Linked DNA regions of Homo sapiens. The protein of the gene in region 2 interacts with the protein of the main gene of each other region in a pairwise test. Each region holds a gene or a part of one and is shown on either strand. Other genes may lie near its edges.

Region 1 (4,580 bases), on a different chromosome or scaffold from region 2:
AGGCCAAGGTGGGAGAATTGCTTGAGCTCAAGAGTTTGAAACCAGCCCGGACAACATGGCGAAACCCGTCTCTACAAAAAATAGAAAAATTAGCTGGGTGTGGTGGCACACACCTGTAGTCCTGCTACTCAGGAGGCTGAAGTGGGAGGATCATGGAGCCCAGGGAGGTCAGGGCTGCAGTGAGCCATGATCATGCACTCCAGCCTGGGCGACAGAGTGAGACCCTGCCTTAAAAACACCTGAAAAACAAAAAGCCCTGAAACCCAAAACCAAAAAAACCAACTGGCTGCTACTACCCACATATTCTAATGATATTTGGAGTTTGAAAAAACCTGGGATTGGCAGAGTCGGCAAAAATGGGTGTAGACGAGTTTCCCAATCTCAGGACTACTGACATTTGGGGCTGGATGATTCTTTGTTGTGGGGGGCTGTCCTGTGCATTGTAGGATATTGATCAGTATCCCTGGCTTCACTCACTACATGCCAGTAGCTTTGTGACAACCAAAAACATTTCTAGACATTGTCAGATGTCCCCTGGTGAGGAAAAATCAGGCCTAGTTAAGAACCACTGATACCTCTGATCCCGCAGGGCTGATCTATATAAAGTGCAAATGAAGCCACCATCTTCCTCTCCTCCTACAGGGAACTTGTGAATCTTTCCTCAATCCCATACCCTTGGGAACCATCTCACAGAGCTGATGCCACTTGGCTTGGGAAGTGGGGTGGAAGTGAGGGGGAGAGAAGGAGCAGGTGGAATAGAAGCAGCAAGAAAAGACAATGGAAAAGCTTCTAGAAATAAGAAAGGTTTATTTAGCAAAAGCCACTAGACTAGTGACAACATCCAGGGAGTAAGTGCACTTACATTAACAGAATCTTTTCCCAGAGAGTTGATCCAACAGAGTTAATGACACAACAGCTTTAGGAAGTAGAGTGCTAGTGGGTAGAGGGTTAGGAGGAAGCAGTCAAGCAAAGAGTAAATAAAAGGAATACAACGCCTAAACAAGATCAGTTGAGAGAAATGAGGCTAGGAAGAGGTTTTACAGAGAGAGCATTGATATAAGCAGGAATATAAGGAATATAATTTTTAATCTCAATATACAGTCCATCCAGTGCAGAGAAATTCTTTCCTGGCTCCATAACTGTGGGAGCCTCCTGTGCACGAGAGTCTGCTGGCACCTGGGGTAGGCTGGGGCAGGCACCAATAAGGTTAGCACCCCTGGTGTCCATTTGTCCTCCATATAGGGCAGAGTAGAAGAATGAAAAAGAGGAAGGCAGAGTTGAGTTAGCAGAGCAAGAAGCAAGGAGGGAGGACAGGGTGACATCGTCGGGAAATCAGGTCTGCAATGTTCCCTTTCCTGCCCAGTTGGCCCTGATGGAGGGTCGGTGGCTGGTGATCCTTCAAGGCTCCTAGATCTGTCCTTTGTCTCCCATCTCCACACACCAAGTATGCGCTGGTTTGGGTCCACTGGGGAGGATACCAATACACAAACTAGTCCTCCAGGGAGGGCCTGAACTGGGGAAAGGGTGGCGCCCAGGCAGGAAGAAACCACCATGGAACACCCCAAGGGCAGGAGTCTTGGATGGGTCCCAAAGTCAGCAACACAGATAACTAGTTTCTCCAATTCTTTAATTTCTCCATTTCCTTTCGTCTATCCAATCTCAAGTTTTTACAGGCCATTTAGAAGCGGCCTTCCTCACCCACTCCCTGGCCACATCCCACACAAGCCCTCTCCATCCACATTCCATACACCTAATCCACTGGCCTCTGGCTTTATCCTCAGCTCCGGCTTACGTCAGAAAACAGACTTTTCACTCCTCTGGACGTTCAAAATCTTAATAATCTAAGTGGTCTTGGACTCAGGGAACCCTGGGTTAGATTTCATAAGCTAGGTAGGCTCAGCCACACTGGATTCTGACAGCTGCTCATTTAGTTTCATGGATCTCACTTTCCTGGTTCTTCCTTCTCTGTGTAACTGTACCTATTTCCAATGGCAAATTAGATCAAAACAAAACAAACAGAACCATGCCTCTCCAACTAAATGCATGTTAGAAAACACAAATCTGTTGCTGATTCAAACACCCTGGAGATCCTCGTTCTTTTCCGTCTGGTTACAATCCTACATATATGTACACACTTTCCCTCACACATGTATATATAAACACATGTGTACACACACACACAAAACACACACACACACACCACCTGATCCTATTTCCACTGACACCCTGATGCACCAAGGAAGGCTAACATAAAACTGAATTTATTTCCTTTAATTTGGACTTTCTGGGCTACAAGAAAACCAACTGTGGCCATTAGAAGAGGACTGCACTTTTATTTATATATAATCTAAAGGAAAGCTAGGGTCGATGAACTCCATTTTGGGATAATCATATCCTTGCCGATTGACCCTCCAATAACACTGCAGTTTGCATCTGTACCTTGTTGTCTAGGATAAAGACTTAATTCCCCGAACATATGACTCTAGCAGGTCTCAGCAATCTCTTCAGGCATTTGAAAATCTGTTAACAGCCACTTATGGCCTTACAGGAGCAAAGGAGCTTTTCCTCATTGCCCCAGCCAGCCCGTTAAGGAGTAGTGATCCCTAGGCAAAGCCTAGATCATAAAAGATAAGACAATTGCACATGGCACTTTTTATATGTGTGCTCAAGGCACGCACGCAGAGAGATGGGCCAAGGGTGGCAATGGCTGTGGTCCCTGACCCAAGTGGCAGTGATTCAGAAGAGTGGACAAAAACAGTCTCACAGTCTCAGCTATCAGCTTGCATTCATTCTTTTTTTTCTTTCTCTTTTTTCTTTTTTTTTTTTTGCAGTAAAAACTGACCACCACTGCCCAGTGGAGGGGACAGGTTGAGAGGTAAGGCTGGGGGCTCTGGTCCTCTGGGGCTTTCAGAGAGGTAAAGTGCTGCAAAAGCTTCAGCTGGACAGGACACAGGGGAGGTGAGGGGCAATTCCCAGCTTCCATTTAGATGGGCTGGGCTACAGGCAGGAGGAAGGCAGGGCAGGACTTTCAAAACAGGAATCAGATCTAAGTGATTTGGAGCAGCAGACAAGCTGTCCTCCCCCTGGGCTCTCACACCAAGGGCCTGAACCATGTTAAAGCTTCAAGGCTCCCTTTGTAGCAACATTCAATGTCCGGCTGGAGAAAATGTTTGGATTCAGTTCCTCTAAAAGCTTATCCACTGTGACACATTCCAATTCCATGCTCACCCTACAAGGACTAGCCTGGCTTTTGCGGTCCAGAGCACTCAATCTCTACAATCTCAGCAAGGGCCTGGAGAAGGAATTCCTCTCATAAAGGTAGGGGGAGGGTTAGGCAACTCGCAGCATCGTGATATCCAGAAACAAAGTACCTGAGAAGGTACCGATGGCTTCCCTTCCTGGTCGGGACCATGGAGACGGGGAGAGTGAGGGGGTAGGGGGGCATCACGGACAAAGCGTGGGAGCCTGACGATGCAGCAGGTAGGGGCAGGTCCTCCAGCAGCCTGGCAGTCCTGGAGAGAGACCCTCTCCTGAAGCCATGGGCTCTGGAAGGCCTTACCTCCACCACCCTCTAGTCACAAGTAGGAGAGGAGCTGATTCACCTCTGGGAATCCGATTTCTTCCCCACTTTACCCTCCAAAGCAGAATCTCAATACTTTCCTGAAACCTCACACTCTCCCGGGCCCTGGCTGGCATTCTCCTCGGCAGTGCACATTCACTGGGCATCCCCTACCCGGGCAGCAGCCAGACACGGCCCCTCCAGCCACGCCGCCGCCTCCATCTCCTCGCCCTCGGCACCTACACGGCGATCTCATCATCCAGGCCGTCGCCCAGTTCCTGCCTCTGCAGGACATTCAGCAGGCGCGGCAGCTCCTCCTGGGACCACGAGTCGCGCTCCTCGCTCTCGTCCGTGTTGGACTCGTACTCCGAGGCGATGCCTGACTCTCGGAACTTGATGAGCTCCAGACCGCCCAGGAGCGCCTCGCCCTGCGCTGGGGGCGGGGTGTCCTCGGGCGGAAGAAAGCGAAAGCACTCCAGCTTCACCAAGCAGTCGCGCCTACCTAAGGGGCTGCCCGCAGGGTGGGCAAAGTCAGCCAAGCCCGCGCCCAGCGGCGGCGAATGCAGGTCCTCTGGCTTAGGGGTCGTGGGGTCACAGAGCACGGGCAGGGCTCCGGAGCGGAAGGTGATCTCCAGCAAGCTGTCCTGGGAGCCCACTGCAGGGGAGACAAGAGGTAGCAGAGGGGCAGCGTTAGGCAAGGTTGTTGATTTGGGATGCCCGCCTTCTGCCCGCCCGTGCCCTGCCAAAGCCCTTCCCAGACCAGCTTAGCAGCACCTCTCCGGGCTTTGGGTCTCTTAACACTTCACCCTTCCTCCCGCCCCCACATAGCTCCAGACACACCTCGCTGGAGGGGAGGAGCTTTGGGACGTGGTAAAGGCGGGGACATAAGAACCATATGATGGTTCTGGTAGCCACTGAAGGCTCTGAATAGGGTTAGTGGTAGGAAAAAGGTACCAATTGAGAGAACCATGTTAGAAGCCTGTGGTAACCTTTAGTACAATCATGTAAATAAGCATTAATT
Region 2 (7,518 bases):
CCTACAAAAAAAGATAATGCTGCTACACTTGTCATTATATACCTTGCGTGTTTGTGTGGTAGGAGTGGGTGGTGGAAGGGATTGTGTGTATGTTCATATTAAGGGAGGTATCAACAGATGTTAATGTACTATGTTCAGTCTGAGTATACTATCAGATTCTGTGTTATGTATCATCTCATGTAGAAGCATGAACATTTAGCCCCCCCGCCAAAAAATCATGTTAATTGAACAAAAAAACATATCACTATGCAAATAATTTATATCTAACCTTATTAAGAAAAACAAGCATATGATATGATAAAACTAATACTTATATTTCACAGTAGAACAAATAGGATATAATGCATCAATTAAATTGATTATGAAGAAAAAGCTTATTTTCTTTTAGATACCTACTACATAAAATTAAAGAAACTAATTGACCAAAAAAAAAAAAAAGGCTACAAAAATAAGTGTGTTACAAGATCCCTATGTATACACAATTAAAGTAGAGAATTGTGATTAGAAAAAGTCATCTACTTTCAACCATTTTCATTGCCTATATCTGGAAAAAATAATTCCAAATTGAAAATAACAATTGTTGATTAGTACATTATTTTTGTATGATGTTTTTGTAAGCTTTTTTCTATTTTTCATCTCCATGTTCCATTCCAAACTTTTCCAGGATCAGTGTGAGTGGTTAAGTAGTAATCTGTAATCCTTGAAAAGCATCCAAAAAACCCCACAAGTATCCAAAAAAAAAAAAACAACCAATTTTAATATGAAAGTAACTGAAAGTAATTTAGTCACATTTGCCCAATATCATGCGTTATTTCCTGAAGAAATCATAGTTGTCTTAAGTCAAGGCCAAAATCATTTTACCTTTAGGATTTCACCATTGATTAATTTCTTGCTTAATTCAGTGGCAAAAAAATATGAATAGACAATTCTCAAAAAAACATAAACATATGAAAAGACAATCTTACCACTAATCTAAGAAATATGAATACATAATATTGATAAATTAATTTGGAGATGTTGATTACAAATGTAAGTAGTGATTACTTCTCAGTGGTATTTTGAGTTACTTTTAATTTCTTCTTTGTATTTCAATGTATTGCCTGACTTTATCAATGAACACATATCATCTTCACAAAATGTAAAGTTATCTTAAAACCGACTCATTAGTTGTTTGCAGCAAACGTCTGACCAATGGATCAGAAAAGAATTTAGAGACAGACCCAAGCAATTTATTTAATGTGATCAAAATAGCATTTCAAGTAAGCAGGAGATAGAAAGATTACCAAATAAATGGTACTAGAAGAATTAGCTAGCTAATAAAAATAAATATTTTAAAAATCTGGATCCCTAACTCATGACTGACTCTAAAATACTAATTCCTAATGCTACAAAGTTTAAAACATAAGAGCATACATTTTTTTAAATCTCCATAATTTAAAATAAAAATAGTAAGTTTCAGAACAATATTTATGGTATAACATCAATGACGTAAATCATTGTTTCTATAACATATGTTTTGATTAAAATTATTCAACGAAAGGATATGCACTTAGTAAATTTCATTCACCATTATACTACAATCCTCTACCACATTTGCCCGGCATATGACAAGCACAAAAATATATTAGTTGAATAACAAAAAAATGAACTTTATGCACTGTTGGAACTGTAAATTGTGATAATAATTCTGCAGAGAGTTTGGCAATATGTATACAATAATAATTTCATAATATGAAATGATCATCCCCAAGCCATCCATTTCTAGGAATTTATCTTATGACCAATTTTCACAAGTGCATAGAAATACATGCTTTAGGTATCCAGGGACACTTTGATTATAGCAGGAAAATAGTATGTATTTAAGGGGAGAGATGGTATAGAAATGGCCACCCTATAACAGGAATCTGGTCAAATAAATTAAGGCAATTATTTCCATGGAATATGCACTTACTTAAAAATAAGATGTCGATCATTTGCCATGAAAATATAGCCATTAGTAATTGATAAATTAAATGAAAAGATTACAAAACATAATATGGTGTCACATAGATAAAGCAGTATACATAAATAGGCAGGTATGTATATGCACAAGGAAATTTCTGGAAGGAAGTGCATCAAAATGCTAGTAATTCTTATCATTTGGTGGTTAAGATTTTGTGTTTTTACTACTGTTGGAATTTTCTATATTGTTTTATCTTTGCAATGTTCACAGACTTTGACAATTAGAGATAAACAATAAAAGTAAATGCATTTATGAAACAGAAAAGCGTTTCCTAACTTTTAAAAAACGTGATTACATGACAAAGCACAAATTCTATAAAGATTAATCTAACTTTAATACATTTCCTCATTTGAAATGAATAATTTATCATATTTCATATTTTAATTTACCACTTGTATTCTATGACCAGGTTTAGATAGTTAATGCGGTTAAGTATGTAATTGTCTACATTAGTATGCCAAATTACCTCTGTGGATTTTCCTGTTTCCATAGAATTATCAAGATAATTCTCTAAAATAAATCTTTAAATGACTGTATCCTGTAAACTTTTATTCAGATGGAGATGAGTAATTTTTGTCATTCTTTAAAATGTGCTAAATATGATCCTTACCTTTCAATGAAAAGTAAATACTCGTCTTTTTTATTGTACCAAGGGAGTTGTTCTGTAGCAGAAAAAAAAATCCTGTAAATAAAAATAACAAATACTCGTTTTTAAACTTCATTTTGCAAAAGTTTATTCACATATTACTGGACTTGTAAATCATACTATAGTATGGCTAGAATTTTACAACATTAGAAGGAAATTGGTGGCAGATGACATCGCATACACTGACAGAAGATGCACATTCATTAGCACAAATTCCCCCTCCCATCCCACTGTTCTTGGAATTGAAACCTGCTGCACAAAAGTATAACGCAAATCATTTGCTTTTTAACAATACTACCTAACATTTAATACCTCTTTGTTTTATCTACAAGGTTGTTACAAGCATTGAGAAGGGCTACGTGGCAAGTTAGCAGCAAGGTTGGGGTATATAATATGCCAGCCTAAAAAGAGAAATATAATAAAAATGGTGTAACTGACTCACGGCAACATGGGTTCGCAAACCTTGTAGATGGATATAAACCAGGCTTGCCAAACATCACAGACAGCACTTATTAAATCAGCTTCGTGGAATGCAATACGCCTGCTGTCTAGTCCCTCCCTCCTCTGCCAATAACCGACTCTCCCCTTTTTTATCCAGTGTAAAAATGCATGCTCATAGAATATTTAGAGAAAATCGTTTTGTTTTTAAATCGTCCATAGTCACACTACCCAATGACGCCATTTGGACCATTTTCATTCAATTTTTTTTTTTTTTTTTTTTTTTTTTTACAGCTTTTTGTCAAGAGACCCGTGACAAACTAAACGGGAATTCAGGGTGGGCGGATGGGAGAAGGAAGACACGCCTCTTTTGCCCTTGTTAGGAACTATGGCTGGTATTTTTACCTCATGTCTACGCTTTTTTTTCTTTTTTAATTATAAAACTATAAATATAGACTTTTTGGGGGGCAGGGGGACACCTTCCAAGGGGTCGCACCTCAGCCAGCGAGCGGCGTCTGGGAAGGTGGGCGGAGCCAGGAGTAGTGGCGTTTGGCCGTTCGTTGGGCGTACAGTTTGTCAATTAAGGTGGACCAGCAAATGAGGAGCGAACTAAAGGCACACTGGGAACGAAATTAACGGGAGGTCTGACTGCAAGGGGAGGGGGCTCGCGATCTAAAACGAGAAGAGATCTCGGGGTCTCATACTGCGCCATTCGGCTGCGGTACATCTCGGCACTCTAGCTGCAGCCGGGAGAGGCCTTGCCGCCACCGCTGTCGCCCAAGCCTCCACTGCCGCTGCCACCTCAGCGCCGGCCTCTGCATCCCCAGCTCCAGCTCCGCTCTGCGCCGCTGCTGCCATCGCCGCTGCCACCTCCGCAGCCCGGGCCTCCGCCGCCGCCACTCAAGCATCCGTGAGTCATTTTCTGCCCATCTCTGGTCGCGCGGTCTCCCTGGTAGAGTTTGTAGGCTTGCAAGATGGCAGAAGCAGATTTTAAAATGGTCTCGGAACCTGTCGCCCATGGGGTTGCCGAAGAGGAGATGGCTAGCTCGACTAGTGATTCTGGGGAAGAATCTGACAGCAGTAGCTCTAGCAGCAGCACTAGTGACAGCAGCAGCAGCAGCAGCACTAGTGGCAGCAGCAGCGGCAGCGGCAGCAGCAGCAGCAGCAGCGGCAGCACTAGCAGCCGCAGCCGCTTGTATAGAAAGAAGAGGGTACCTGAGCCTTCCAGAAGGGCGCGGCGGGCCCCGTTGGGAACAAATTTCGTGGATAGGCTGCCTCAGGCAGTTAGAAATCGTGTGCAAGCGCTTAGAAACATTCAAGATGAATGTGACAAGGTAGATACCCTGTTCTTAAAAGCAATTCATGATCTTGAAAGAAAATATGCTGAACTCAACAAGCCTCTGTATGATAGGCGGTTTCAAATCATCAATGCAGAATACGAGCCTACAGAAGAAGAATGTGAATGGAATTCAGAGGATGAGGAGTTCAGCAGTGATGAGGAGGTGCAGGATAACACCCCTAGTGAAATGCCTCCCTTAGAGGGTGAGGAAGAAGAAAACCCTAAAGAAAACCCAGAGGTGAAAGCTGAAGAGAAGGAAGTTCCTAAAGAAATTCCTGAGGTGAAGGATGAAGAAAAGGAAGTTCCTAAAGAAATTCCTGAGGTAAAGGCTGAAGAAAAAGCAGATTCTAAAGACTGTATGGAGGCAACCCCTGAAGTAAAAGAAGATCCTAAAGAAGTCCCCCAGGTAAAGGCAGATGATAAAGAACAGCCTAAAGCAACAGAGGCTAAGGCAAGGGCTGCAGTAAGAGAGACTCATAAAAGAGTTCCTGAGGAAAGGCTTCAGGACAGTGTAGATCTTAAAAGAGCTAGGAAGGGAAAGCCTAAAAGAGAAGACCCTAAAGGCATTCCTGACTATTGGCTGATTGTTTTAAAGAATGTTGACAAGCTCGGGCCTATGATTCAGAAGTATGATGAGCCCATTCTGAAGTTCTTGTCGGATGTTAGCCTGAAGTTCTCAAAACCTGGCCAGCCTGTAAGTTACACCTTTGAATTTCATTTTCTACCCAACCCATACTTCAGAAATGAGGTGCTGGTGAAGACATATATAATAAAGGCAAAACCAGATCACAATGATCCCTTCTTTTCTTGGGGATGGGAAATTGAAGATTGCAAAGGCTGCAAGATAGACTGGAGAAGAGGAAAAGATGTTACTGTGACAACTACCCAGAGTCGCACAACTGCTACTGGAGAAATTGAAATCCAGCCAAGAGTGGTTCCTAATGCATCATTCTTCAACTTCTTTAGTCCTCCTGAGATTCCTATGATTGGGAAGCTGGAACCACGAGAAGATGCTATCCTGGATGAGGACTTTGAAATTGGGCAGATTTTACATGATAATGTCATCCTGAAATCAATCTATTACTATACTGGAGAAGTCAATGGTACCTACTATCAATTTGGCAAACATTATGGAAACAAGAAATACAGAAAATAAGTCAATCTGAAAGATTTTTCAAGAATCTTAAAATCTCAAGAAGTGAAGCAGATTCATACAGCCTTGAAAAAAGTAAAACCCTGACCTGTAACCTGAACACTATTATTCCTTATAGTCAAGTTTTTGTGGTTTCTTGGTAGTCTATATTTTAAAAATAGTCCTAAAAAGTGTCTAAGTGCCAGTTTATTCTATCTAGGCTGTTGTAGTATAATATTCTTCAAAATATGTAAGCTGTTGTCAATTATCTAAAGCATGTTAGTTTGGTGCTACACAGTGTTGATTTTTGTGATGTCCTTTGGTCATGTTTCTGTTAGACTGTAGCTGTGAAACTGTCAGAATTGTTAACTGAAACAAATATTTGCTTGAAAAAAAAAGTTCATGAAGTACCAATGCAAGTGTTTTATTTTTTTCTTTTTTCCAGCCCATAAGACTAAGGGTTTAAATCTGCTTGCACTAGCTGTGCCTTCATTAGTTTGCTATAGAAATCCAGTACTTATAGTAAATAAAACAGTGTATTTTGAAGTTTGACTGCTTGAAAAAGATTAGCATACATCTAATGTGAAAAGACCACATTTGATTCAACTGAGACCTTGTGTATGTGACATATAGTGGCCTATAAATTTAATCATAATGATGTTATTGTTTACCACTGAGGTGTTAATATAACATAGTATTTTTGAAAAAGTTTCTTCATCTTATATTGTGTAATTGTAAACTAAAGATACCGTGTTTTCTTTGTATTGTGTTCTACCTTCCCTTTCACTGAAAATGATCACTTCATTTGATACTGTTTTTCATGTTCTTGTATTGCAACCTAAAATAAATAAATATTAAAGTGTGTTATACTATAAAAATCTAGCCTTTTCTCCTGACTATAAAAGAGGGATGCTTATCATAGAAGAAAGTAGAGGATCACAAGGAAAAGGACAATTTAATAAAAAGATAACTATTATTAACATTCTGATGTATTTCCCACATCTTAGCTTTTCTGTTGGAGGACACTCATTCAAGATTTTGGAGAGCAATGGAACAAGGAAAAGGAACATGGCATGGAGGGAAAGGAAGGGAAAGGTAGAAGGGGATGGGGATGGGTAAGGGAGGAGGGAGAAAGGAGGGGTGGAGAAGAAAGAAGAGAGGTGAAAAAGGGAAAGGGAGGAAGGTGGGTAGCAGAAGGAATGTGGGGGGGGGGCGGTGGCAAAGGGAACTGGAGAGAAGAGGGGAAGGAGAGCAGGAGTGCCTCACTCACAACACCAGTTATGTAGAAGACAAGCTATGGACCCACCCTTCACCTTGACTTGGAAGGAGGTCACACTACCTTGACTCATTTTTTCTTACAGTGATACCAGGCTCTCATCTCTTCACCATGCAGCTGGTCACAAAGAGATCCTAAGATTTTGGTTTGAGATAAGTGTGAGGAGGTTCTCTCACACTTAAACTCAGTTTACCAGGGAGCTTTGCACTGGACATAAAGGAAGAAGCACAGCATATAATAAAGTGGTACCTTATTTCACATTTGCCATTTCCCAGTCCACAAATGTTTCCCTTGAAAATCTCATAGGAAACTGTAGCCGAAGTAAGAGAGGATTTTAGAATTTCTGACTCTCTAGGCCTAAAATGATCTATAATAGTCTTCCGTACCCTACCATATATAGTTTAGCATCTCACTTTTATTCTGCTTAACAATAGTCACTCCCCAATTTCTATAATGTAAAAATATTAAAACCAATGTCATATTTAACCCACCACATGTGTTCAGATAGTTAGGTTTGCTTTATGATTTTCCACAACATCAGGAAGCAAATTATTGTTTTTAGCAATACCACAGCGTTTTTTGTTTTTTTTTTTTTTGTTTTGTTTTGTTTTGTTTTGTTTTGTTTTAGACAGTTTCACTTTTATTGCCCAGGCTGGAGTGCAACCTCCGCCTCCTGGGTTCAAGT

The links.
Region 1: the proteins of FAM133A (region 2) and NOS1AP interact in binary tests that used the Homo sapiens proteins (3 or more experiments, as listed by UniProt).

What each region holds. Positions count from the first base shown.
Region 1 is NC_000001.11:162,366,686-162,371,265, reverse strand, and holds the end of NOS1AP (carboxyl-terminal PDZ ligand of neuronal nitric oxide synthase protein), read right to left. Parts: intron 4,215-4,580; coding exon 3,799-4,214; 3' UTR 791-3,798; downstream 1-790. UniProt on the Homo sapiens protein: Adapter protein involved in neuronal nitric-oxide (NO) synthesis regulation via its association with nNOS/NOS1. The complex formed with NOS1 and synapsins is necessary for specific NO and synapsin functions at a presynaptic level.
Region 2 is NC_000023.11:93,669,847-93,677,364, reverse strand, and holds the start of FAM133A (protein FAM133A), read right to left. Parts: upstream 3,160-7,518; 5' UTR 3,091-3,159; exon of another isoform or gene 2,961-3,090; intron 2,685-2,960; 5' UTR 2,613-2,684; intron 1-2,612. Other genes in the region: NAP1L3 (nucleosome assembly protein 1-like 3), read left to right, coding at 4,061-5,581.